2 separate regions of the Homo sapiens genome follow, and region 1 is linked to region 2. The links come from fine-mapping of genetic effects on gene expression. Tissue or cell type: whole blood. Region 2 holds a variant in brackets; the other region holds the start of a gene. All regions are shown on one strand. Distances are from middle to middle. Region 1 holds the start of SEMA4G (semaphorin 4G). Region 2 overlaps SLF2 (SMC5/6 complex localization factor 2).

The links. PIP is the estimated chance that this variant, and not a neighbour inherited with it, causes the effect.
Region 1: SEMA4G starts here. The variant in region 2 is the best candidate, but not a certain one, in a credible set for the expression of SEMA4G in whole blood (TOPMed, PIP 0.53).

What each region holds. Positions count from the first base shown.
Region 1 is chr10:100,966,400-100,971,782 of GRCh38, reverse strand. SEMA4G (semaphorin 4G) reads right to left here and starts at 2,279. Exons shown (of 15, transcript NM_017893.4): 1 at 2,192-2,279. RefSeq lists a silencer at 2,263-2,322.
Region 2 is chr10:100,924,592-100,929,974 of GRCh38, reverse strand. It overlaps SLF2 (SMC5/6 complex localization factor 2), which reads right to left. Exons shown (of 20, transcript NM_018121.4): 5 at 5,003-5,383; 6 at 3,956-4,026; 7 at 536-658; 8 at 1-145. Among named protein-coding and RNA genes, the nearest start is that of SLF2, 14 kb to the right of the region's middle. The variant AC/C (reference allele first, on the strand shown) is at 2,893.

The sequences.
Region 1 (5,383 bases), 42 kb before region 2:
GACACATCTTGGACCCTCCCTCAAGCCAACCAGTTGGGGATGGGATGGGGGTGGGTGGCAGGCCTCTCCCAACCCCTGTAACAGGCCTCCTAATCACCAAGGGGTTCCTTGAAGAGTTCCTGGGCTGGGTGAGGTGTGGAGAGACCTAATACATTCCATCTCATCAGCCACCCACAGGCAGGGCCAGAGGGTGCCACTGGTGCCTCCTCTCCCAGGTCAAATATTAACTATCTGGCCTTGGAAAGAGGGGAGGAATCAGGAACTGGCCAGAGGGATAACAGGAGCAATTATTCAAGAGGTAAAGGTCAGCACTGCAGGGGCAGAGCCCTGAGGGGTAGAGTCAAATATGAAAGGGAGAGAAGAGGATTCCCTGACCCTGAAAGGGCATAGGCTCCCTGTTTGGGATCTGGGACAGCAGGAAGCTTCAGGCAAGCCGGCCATGCCCCACCCCTCCCTGTGGAGGCACACCTGTTTACCTTTGGGACCTCCTATTTGCTCAGTGCAAAAGGCATGTGTGTGGGGAGCACTATGGCTAGGAGGAACATGCCCCAGGTTAGAGGAGCCACTCAGTGTGGTGCATGTCACACTTATAGTTTAAGAGTCACATGGGTGACTATTAGGAAGGTGATATACATGCACATGGGTGCACACACACACACACACACATGTTCACAAGGAGGACTGTGAACACGTGGATTCACAGGGGTCATTCACACATATACTCACAGGGAGTTTTGTGCACACATATGCTCATACAGAGGGCCACAGCCACAGGTAATCATACATATTCACATGTGACGTTGAATTTACATGCCCATCCATTCAGCAGGTCACACAGCCTCAGACATTGAGGAGAGATAAACCCACACATGTGGGTTTGTGTCAAGGACTGTGCACCTATTCAACAGGAGGGTCCTATACATACACATGTATGTGTAGGGACATGCACACAAACCCATTGATATAGTGGGCCAGGCAATCATGTTCACAGAAGGGTCAAGTACATGTGTGCTCACACGCAGTTCTTGAACACACAACTACATCCATGCAGAGACAAGCACACATGCATACAGGGGTCCAGTTTTTGCCATAGGCTTGGAGGCTGCCAGTGTCCACTGGGGTGAGATGCAGAGCAGAACCCTGCCTCTGTTCCTGAAAGTCCCAATTCTAAGGCCCAATTTCAAGTGTGTGTTTGTGTGTGGGGGTGGTGAGGGGGTTGTGTGTGTGTGTGTGTGTGGTGATGGGGGAGGCTTCTGACCTTGGATGGGCAGATGGGATGGGTGCATGAGTCAAGGCCGCTCTACAAGGGAGGGAATGGGAAAGTAACTCAGGCAGGAGGAGGCCCCTAGCTTCAGCAAAGATGGAATGGAACGCATAATTTAGTACTCCTCCACCCCTATGTATATTGCGGTTCTAAAGGTGGGAGACGGGCTGGAGCTCTCAGCCCCCACTTAACCTGTGGGAGGGGGCGGGGCTAAGTGGGCGGGGCGGAGCATATCACCCCTCCCTTCAGTGGCGAAGTACGGGTTTAAGGTCTCCAGTCCACGCCCCACACTCCACCCCAAGTTCCACAGTTCGGGTTCTTCCCCAGGGCCAGCCCCCTGAACTCTGATCACCTTTCCTCTATTAGATCTTGGGGTGGAGGGAACTGGGGAGGAGAGACCCTTCAAACAGGATCAATGGAGGATCAGCAGGCTCTCGACCTTCATCCCAGATGTCCACCTGCCTAGTGTAGGCGGTATTTCCCTCTGCCTAGTAGGATGGCGGTCTCTCCTGGCTTGAGAGAGCCCCTCCCCCGGGACCCCCTCCCTCCAACATCCTGGACAGTCCGCGGTCCTCTCCCTTCGTCAGGTCTAACCTCAGTCTCTACTGCTGCAGCTCGAGGACAAGCTCTCCTTCGATCCCGCCGGACGCCGGGAGACGTGACCCAGATCCTGGGGAACACTGTTCGCCACGCGGCCCCCTCCCCGCGCTGGTCCCCGACTCCGTGGTGGCCGGTTTGCACCCCGCGCAGCCCGAGGCCTGGCCCGCGCCCCTCTAGAGCCGTCATGCAGGACCGGGGGACTTGGTGGTGAGAAAGGCCTGGCCCAGCTTGGAGGGTAGAATGGACGTGGGGGAGGCCTTGCCCGACCCCCGGCCCGCAGCCCCAGGCTCACGCCAGGGCGCCGCCCGCACTCCTCGCCTTGCTCACCTTTGCGCTCGGATCCGGGGCCATAGAGACAGCGACGCGCGGCTCCGCGGCCCCACAGCACCAGCTGCGAGAGGAAGGGGCCGCGGCTGGAGGCGGGGCGGGGGGGGGGTGGTGGAGGCGGAGCCGGGGGTGGGGCGGGGTCCTGAAAGGCGGGGCCGACTGGGTGGGGTGAGGGGAAGGTCGCCACTCTCTTCTTTGCGCCCCCTACTCTAGCACAATAGAGGCGGTTTGAGGGCGAGGCTCACACACAGCCTTCGGCCATCGGGCGACCCCCCACCTCTAGGCGCTGCGGCCCTGAAATCGCCCCCTGGTGGTGGCCTCGCCACCCCGTGCACCCTCCACATGCTTATAGCCCGTCCTCTCCTCCGCTGTAACCCTAGGACCCCCCTGACTTGCCTACTGCTGGGGACGTGCAAACCTGTCCTGGCGTTGCGGGGTTGGGGGACCCTCTCGGAGGGCCTTCTGGCCTGTCCTCTAACCTGGACCTCACTCCCTGTGCTCCTGCCACCCGCTTCTGCTCTCGGCCTAGGGTGTGGAGGGAAGGCTACCCTAGGTGGCGACTGGACGTTAGGGAAGCTCTGAACACAAGGTAGGGGCTTGATTCCCAGCTTCAGGGGCTGTTCAGCTTGAGCTATGCGTGGGGGAGATGGGGTCAGGCCTGAAGGGGATAAAGTAACAGCCTGACCTGAAAGGCACACAGAAAATGCTTTTTCTGGATAAATAAGCCACAAGCGTTTGCACCTGTTCACTCACCAAATCTTAACCCTAACCTAGGCTCACCTCAGGGACTGGGTCATTCAAACACTTGCCTTCCCCTCCAGCTCATCTTGGGCACCATTCTTATCCAGAACTTAGAGTGCACCCTTCTAGGCAATCAAGTACCCTATCCTTCCCAGATTCAATCACCTTACCCAGCAGCAATCTAGGAAACCCCTCACAATCAACTCCCCAACTCCTTTAACTCAACTAGGATGGTCCTTCTGTGCAAACTTGGTTCCTGCCTCCTTTAATAGGTCACAGCCTATTAAAGTGAACTTAGCCCCTATAGTCCAAACAAAACCTGCATTCAGGCCCTGACCCAGCCTGGTCCTTCCTCCTCCATCCATGACAGTATTCATGTGGGCTCAAGAGATGGACCAAAATGATAAAGGCCACAGGAACATATGTGATTGACTCTTGCATGTGCCTAGGAGTCAGAACAGGATTCAAGTGGCACATTTAACTAAAGGAAACTTGGGAAAGGCTTCATCCTTCTTTCTGGATTCCCCAAAGCTCACAGTTTGGCACTGAATCATATACAATCTCGTAGTTTGGATGGCTGTGTGTGACTGCAGACTGCTAGACAGCAGGGCCCACATCACAGTTCCACCTCCCCCAACACTCTGCAAATAGGATGTGTGTGGCGGGGAGAGGGAAGGTAGCTGGGGAGAAACACAATAAAAAATGTACACACACTTTTACAAAGAATATCCTGCTTCATTTTTTATTTGTACCCTCATCCCATCCTGAGGAATTTATAGCCCCATTTTATGGATGGGGAAACAGGCTCTAAGACATTAAGTAACTTGCCTTGAAGTTCATTCTTGTGTTTATGGAGAGGACAATCAAGACTGGAAAAGTCTGAGAAGGAGGAAGCAGGGTAAGCCAGAAGGGGAAATACCATTGGCAAAGGTAGAAATGTTCAAGCTTATGCACAGGCTTGTGTTGGGGAACTAAGGAAGGGGCATGAAAGAGGGCAGTGAGTTTGATTTGATGAAATGGCTGGGGGGGGGGGGGGGGCGGGGAGGGGTTCCTAGTGGGAAATAAAAGGGAAAAGTCAGCTAGTAGTTTGAAAAAGACCACAGAAGAAAATCCTGAAAGAGATGATGGACTGAGTAAGGACGTCTGAGGTGGGAAGACCAGTCAAGGCAGGGCTAAGAAAGATAAATCTGCAGTCCTTATCAAAAAGTGGGTTGGTGGTAACAGTGGAGGCAGGGTAGGAAGACTGCTGGTCCTTCAGTAGCAGATAGGAGAGCAATTAAACTGTAGGGGCCCAGGGGGCTAAGAGGCACAGCTTCCCAAATGTTCACAGAACCTGCAGTGCTGACTTCAGATAGCTCTGGAGGTGGCGAGTAGGCCAGTGTGGTAGGCTCAGTATCACTCAACTTCACTTTATGAACCAAGCTTTGCTCCTCTGAGGTGCTGATGGCAAACTCAGACATTGTTAAATGAGCAAAATGTGTGATTTCAATGATCACTGGGCAGTTACTTCAGTACTTTTGATAGCAGACCACAATCCATTTCCTTCTGCTAGCCTCCCAGTAAAATCTCTAAACCTAATGAGAGTATCAGATGTAAAAGCAATTAATGGAGCTGCCCATAGGAAGCCCTTTTGATTGACAGTATGTCTCTCTGCAAATCCAGCTGGTAAAATAAGAACGGGGGAATACTGACAGACAGTGGAAAAGAAAACTGGAAATCAACTAAAGAAATTAACCCTAACCCAGCCATAAATCTGCATCCTGGGACACAGGCAGGTCATTCTTTGAACAGGCTGTCACTCATCCATAAGGTCACTACCCTGGCTGCTTCGCAGGGTGGCTGTGAGAGGATTCCATTTGGAAACCTTCTGGAGAACTTCACACACACAGAAAAGTATGAGTTTTGTTTTTGCTAGTCTATTTTCCCCAACTTTGCTGTAAGAAAGTGGCTGAGGGTAGTGCTGGCCGTCTTCAGCAGTGATTGTCAGCCACTTACACACCAGAGTTTAGCTCCACTTTGCACAGAACAGTTACTTACTGTAGCAGGGATCCTAGGTGAAGGGGGTGGGTATGAATTCCTGAAACTTGAGCAGGTTCCCTGAAGCAAGAGAACTCTGGCCTAGTCAAGTTGTCCTGCTTACTGTTCAATGTGGCAGCATTTCTGTTCCTGCTTTGCCATCTCCATCTCTGGTTTGCCCAGCACTTTCCCTTTAGGTGGTGTGGTCTTTATTTTGGCTATATATACAGCTGAGGTGCTTCTTCTGTAGGGGCTGTCACCAGTGCAACAATGCGGAAGTCTCACTATTCCACTGTGCCTCAGAAGCCTGTTTAGTTTTCCTCCCAGCCAGTCGTCTTGGAGTCAGACCCAAAGCTGGGCCTTCTGGTTTGCCCTCTCTTGACTCCAGCCTAGGGAATGGTTAGTAAGGGAAAGGGAGTGTCAGGACATTCCCAC
Region 2 (5,383 bases):
ACTTTGTCCAATAAAACCAGAGTCTCTTAAATCCAAGGTATACTGATTGAAAATTTTTCCAGAATTGAGGAAATTAAATATTTCTTCACCTGGATGATGATCAGGAATAGCATCAATTGTAACTGAAAATTTCTTTAGAAATTCCCTGAAACATAAAAAAAGTCAATCAATACCAAATTGTTACACTACATATAGTTTTGTATTTAAAAGCTGGGTGCAAAGAAAACCATTTTTTAAGCCAATGTTAATCCCAAATTAGAAGACTAGCATGAGAAAAGTATGCTTTGCTTCTTCCACTTTTTGTAGTTGTTAGTCAAAAGCCACTAAATGTGTCTATGTGAAAAGAAACAATAACCAGGAGAAAAGATAAAAGATGAAACCTGGCCCTAACATTTGCCTTTCAAACCCATTACAGACAGAAACCTATCATAAATTATTCACTAACAGCCATCAATGGCCCATTTATTTTACAAAAACAAAACTAAAAAATGTAAAAACTTTAATAAGGTAAAATACATTATGAAAAATGCTATACTTGTGCTCTTCTAAGAGGCCATCCTCATCATCTGTACTGTCTTCTTCTCCAATTCTGATTGGGGATTTAATGCCTCGGCCTTGCCTTATGTCTTCTTGTAGTTGCTTCTGCAGTTCATCTAGCCTGAGAATTGGAAAGAATGTTATAACAGTTTACTCTAAAAATATTTTTAAAAAGTCTTTAGTTTATATCTAAAAGCAGCACAAAGAAAACCCTTATTAAGTACCCTGGTATATAACAAATTTTGTTATACTATCGGTCAAATTATGTCTCCCAAATACATCACGACGTACAATTTTCATGAAAACAGATATATTTCAGGTGCTAGGCTTTTACCCAGTTACCAGTGTGGCATTAGAATAGTGTTCCACTGCATAAAAGACTTGAGGATTTCCATAAAGCTAGAACTTCAAGAATGATCTGTCCAAACCACTCACAGAATGGGAAAGGAAAAATGGCAAAGAATAAACATCACTAATTTGATTATCCTCTCTACTCTTTAAAGTTCACTGGGTTCTAGATGCCCAACAACCTGATAAGTTAACTAGGCTTTCTAGCAGCAGTAGTTGTCACTGTCATCATCATCACAACACCTAACATTTACCGAGCACTTAATATGTGACAGGCACTGCACTAAGGGCTTTATATATTAACTCTTTTAACCCTTACAACAACTCCATGTAGTAGTTTATAACGCATTTTATAGATAAGAAAACCAACATTAGAAAAGCAAAGTAACTTGCAAGAGCTTGTAATGCAAGGATGTGGGATTCATAGCGAGAGAGTCTAGCTCTAGAGTCCTTGCTTATACTGCCTCTCCAAGATTAAGTTATTTTAAACAAGGTCCTTACCCCAGCCACAAACAGTGGATAAGTACAGCTGAGGAGTAAATAACTAGTAAATGTACTGTTCTATCATTATAGAAAAGGGTCAATCATTCAATTAAACTAGTACTACTGTCTTTCATTTGTGAAGTGCTCAATTTTAAAGGAGGAACTTCAGATTTCATATCACAGATCACAAGAATTCATGAAATATTTAAAGAATTTTAAATACAGACAAGTTCTCTAATTAAATTCAGAAAGGGGGAAGCTTTTGAACTACTAATCATCTGAAAAATTCCTAAAGTTAGCTACTTGGTTATCAAGTTTGAGATATGTAGCACATACCAACTTCCATGTAATCAAGTCAGCTGAGCTGTTAGTGAAGTTCTCCAGGCTAGGTTCAAGGACACTCCTTGAATTAACAAGGAATATATTTTTCCCCTCTTATTAGCAAAACCTGTCCATAATTAGTCACATAAATTTCATTAAGATCATTATGATCCTCAACTTTTCTCTCTCTCTCTCTCTCTCTCTCTGTCTCTCTCTCGTGTGTGTGTGTGTGTGTGTGTGGGGGGGGGGGGGGGTGTTCATCATAATTCTAAACTTTTTCCTCAAAAGAGTAACTTGATAGAAATATTTCAGAAAATTCTACCTGTGTGAACCGCCCCACCCACCAAACAAGCCAATTAAAAACAGGCAAAGAATCTGAAAAGACATTTCTCCATTTGTATAACAAATGGCCAATAAGCACATGAAAATATGTTAACATCATTAGTCATTAGGGAAGGCAAACCAAACAATAAGGAGATACCACTTTACTGTTAGGATGGCTATTATCAAAACAAACAAAAAACAAAGATAAAATAATGTGTTGGCAAAGATGTGGAGAAACTGGAACCCTTATTAATTGTTGGTGCAAATGTGCAATGGTGCAGCCATTGTGGAAAACAGTGTGGCGGTTCCTCAAAAAATTAAACGGAATTACCATATAATCCAGTAAGTCCACTTACGTGTATATGCCCAACAGAATCTAAAGGAGAGACTTGAAGAGATATTTGTATACCCATGTTCATAGCAGCATTATTCACAGTAGCCAAAAAGTGGAAGCAATCCAAAGGTCCACTGACAGATGACTAAAGAAAATGTGTTATATACATAATACAATGGAATAATCAGCTTTATAAAGAACGGAAATTCTGACACATGCTACTATATGAATGAACTCTGAAGACACTGCCCTGAATGAAATAAACAGTCGTAAAAGGACAAATATAATACCACTTACATGAGATAACTAAAACACAGTCAATTTCATAGAGACAAAGTAGAAGGGTAGTTGCTGAGGGTGGGAGGAAGAGGAAAATGGGGAGTTATTGTTTAAAGGGTATGGAGTTTCAGTTTGGAAAGATGAAAAAGTTCTGTAGCTAGATGGTGATAATGGTTGCACAACATATAAATTTACTTAATGCCACTGAACTGTACATGTAAAAATGGTTAAAATGGTAAATTTTATATGTATTTTCCATTAAAAAA[AC/C]ACAAAAAATTCTACCCATGCTTTCGATCTAGAATTTCAGCTATCAGATACTAGTTGTAATAAACAGAAAGGAATTTATATTATTAGTTAGTGCAGTATACTATAAAAACCTGGATCTTTTGATCCAGTCTATGAACAAGAGAACCCATCTTATTCCCTTTTTTTTTTTTTTGAGATGGAGTCTTGCTCTGTTGCCCAGGCTAGAGTGCAGTGGCGCAATCTCGGCTCACTGCCACCTCCGACTTCCGGGTTCACGCCATTCTCCTGCCTCAGCCTCCCCAGGAGCTGGGACTACAAGCGCCCGCCACGACACCCAGCTAATTTTTTTTTTTATTTTTTAGTAGAGATGGGGTTTCACCATGTTAGCCAGCATGGTCTCGATCTCCTGACCTCATGATCCACCTGCCTCGGCCTCCCAAAGTGCTGGGATTACAGGCGTGAGCCACTGCGCCTGGCCCCCCACTTTTTTTTTTTTTGAGACGGGGTCTTATTCTGTCACCCAGATTGGAGTGCAGTGGCTCAATCACAGCTCACTACAGCCTTGACCTCCTTGGGCTCAGGTGATCCTCCCAACCTCAGCCTGTTGAGTAGCTGGGACCATAGGTATGTGGCACCATGACTGGCTAATTTTTGTATTTTTTGTAGAGATGGGGTTTCACCATGTTGCCCAGGCTAGTCTCAAACTCCTGGGCTCAAGAGATTTGCCTGCTTTGGCCTCCTAAAGTACTGGATTACAGGCATGAGCCATCACACCTGGCCTCTTTTTTTCATTTGAGACTGGGTCTCACTCTGCCACCCAGGCTGCAGTGAAGTGGCGCCATCACGACTCACCGCAGCCTTGAACTCCTGGGCTCAAGTAATCTTGCCTGGGTCTCCCAAAGTGTTGTGATTACAGGCATGAGCCACTGCGTCCGGCCAACATATCTTATTCTAACACAGTTGACAACAGAGTCCAAAATGCACGCTAATTTCTCATGATTTTTTAAAAAAGGTAAATTAAAAGTAAGCCACACAAACAAGCAAAATGTTAAATTTAGCAAATTAATCTTTATGCTAACAAACCTTTGTGTGTCTTCCATTTCCTTCACTAGACGTTCTAAGGTATTTGTGTAAGTTCCAGGATGAACATGTCCCTAAAACAAGAACATTTAGAAATACTTTACCACATGTCTTAGTAGAAGAACTGGGATGTTTTAAGTAATTAAGGGTACGAAAGACTATTTTCTATTTCAATAATCTGGGCCAGGATAACACCTTTCTTAAAGGATAATTTTCACCATCATGCTTTAAATCTAGTATTTTGCACTGCAGACAATTTGATTTTACTACCTATTAGGAAAGGCAGTACTTATAAAACCCTGCTAACTTTGAGATGTGACTGCAAACACTCAAGGACTCTGTGGCTACCCTGTCTTTACTTTTAAATTCTATTTTAGTAGAATCAAACTACTAATTTTTAGGTGTTACCATGGAATATTAACACCTTCCCCACCAAATTTTACAGACATCTTAGAATTTAATTCAGCTTATTCCCAAGATAGAATGAAGCACTTTATAAATAAAATTGCACACCACAATCAACAACATTTCTACACTCTACCTTCATTTACAGATGTGGTCTCCAAAGCAGGGGGTGTGCAAGGTGATCCATTGGGGTGCAGGAAGAAAATAATAGAACTTCTATTTATATGGAACTTCTATAGAGACTCCAGTAGAACTTAGTCTATAGTAACTTCTACGTCACTTCTACAGGAAAATACTTATTTTTCTCTTCTTCTTCCTTTTAAATTCTGTTTTTGCATATGCTTTAGAAAGTACACAGTATTACAGTGGTACATATATATAATCTAAAGGTATACATATATGTTGGGGTACATGCTCAAAAATTGTTAAGTGTGTGTGATCAAAAGAGTTTGGAGACCACTGACTTACAGTAATAAAACTAAAGATATGGAAACTCATTTACCAAACAAGAATTATTCCATTTTCAGTACAAATATGAGTTATAATAAATACTAAATTTTAAAGTAAGTTCCGATAATCCACCCCTTTCACTAATTAATCATCTTTCCCTCTTCAAGTAAAGATAAACGTCACAGAACTACTTACTGTATAGTCTGATGACTGAGATCTAAGCCCCTTGGAAAGAGCAGGAGGCTTTCCTGTAGCTGCAGGAGTCTGATTGAAGTTCAAAGCCATTATTTCTTCCAGTGACTTTAATGTTTCCTCTTCCTCATCACTGTCTAGGTTGTAACCTAAACTTTCTTCATCACTATCAAAATCACCCCTTAGTTTTCTTTTCAGTGCACTGCTACCTGCATTGGAATTTCCTGAACTCTCTCCTTCTGAAGGGGCTTTATCTGAAGGTGCTGCAGGGCTTGGGATACATGGCACAACTTCCAAAGCAGCAGGGGGAGACTTTGTAGGAGTGCCATATTCTGAGCGCAAAGGTCCCCCAGAAATTTTCCCTGAAGATACATTAGAATCGGC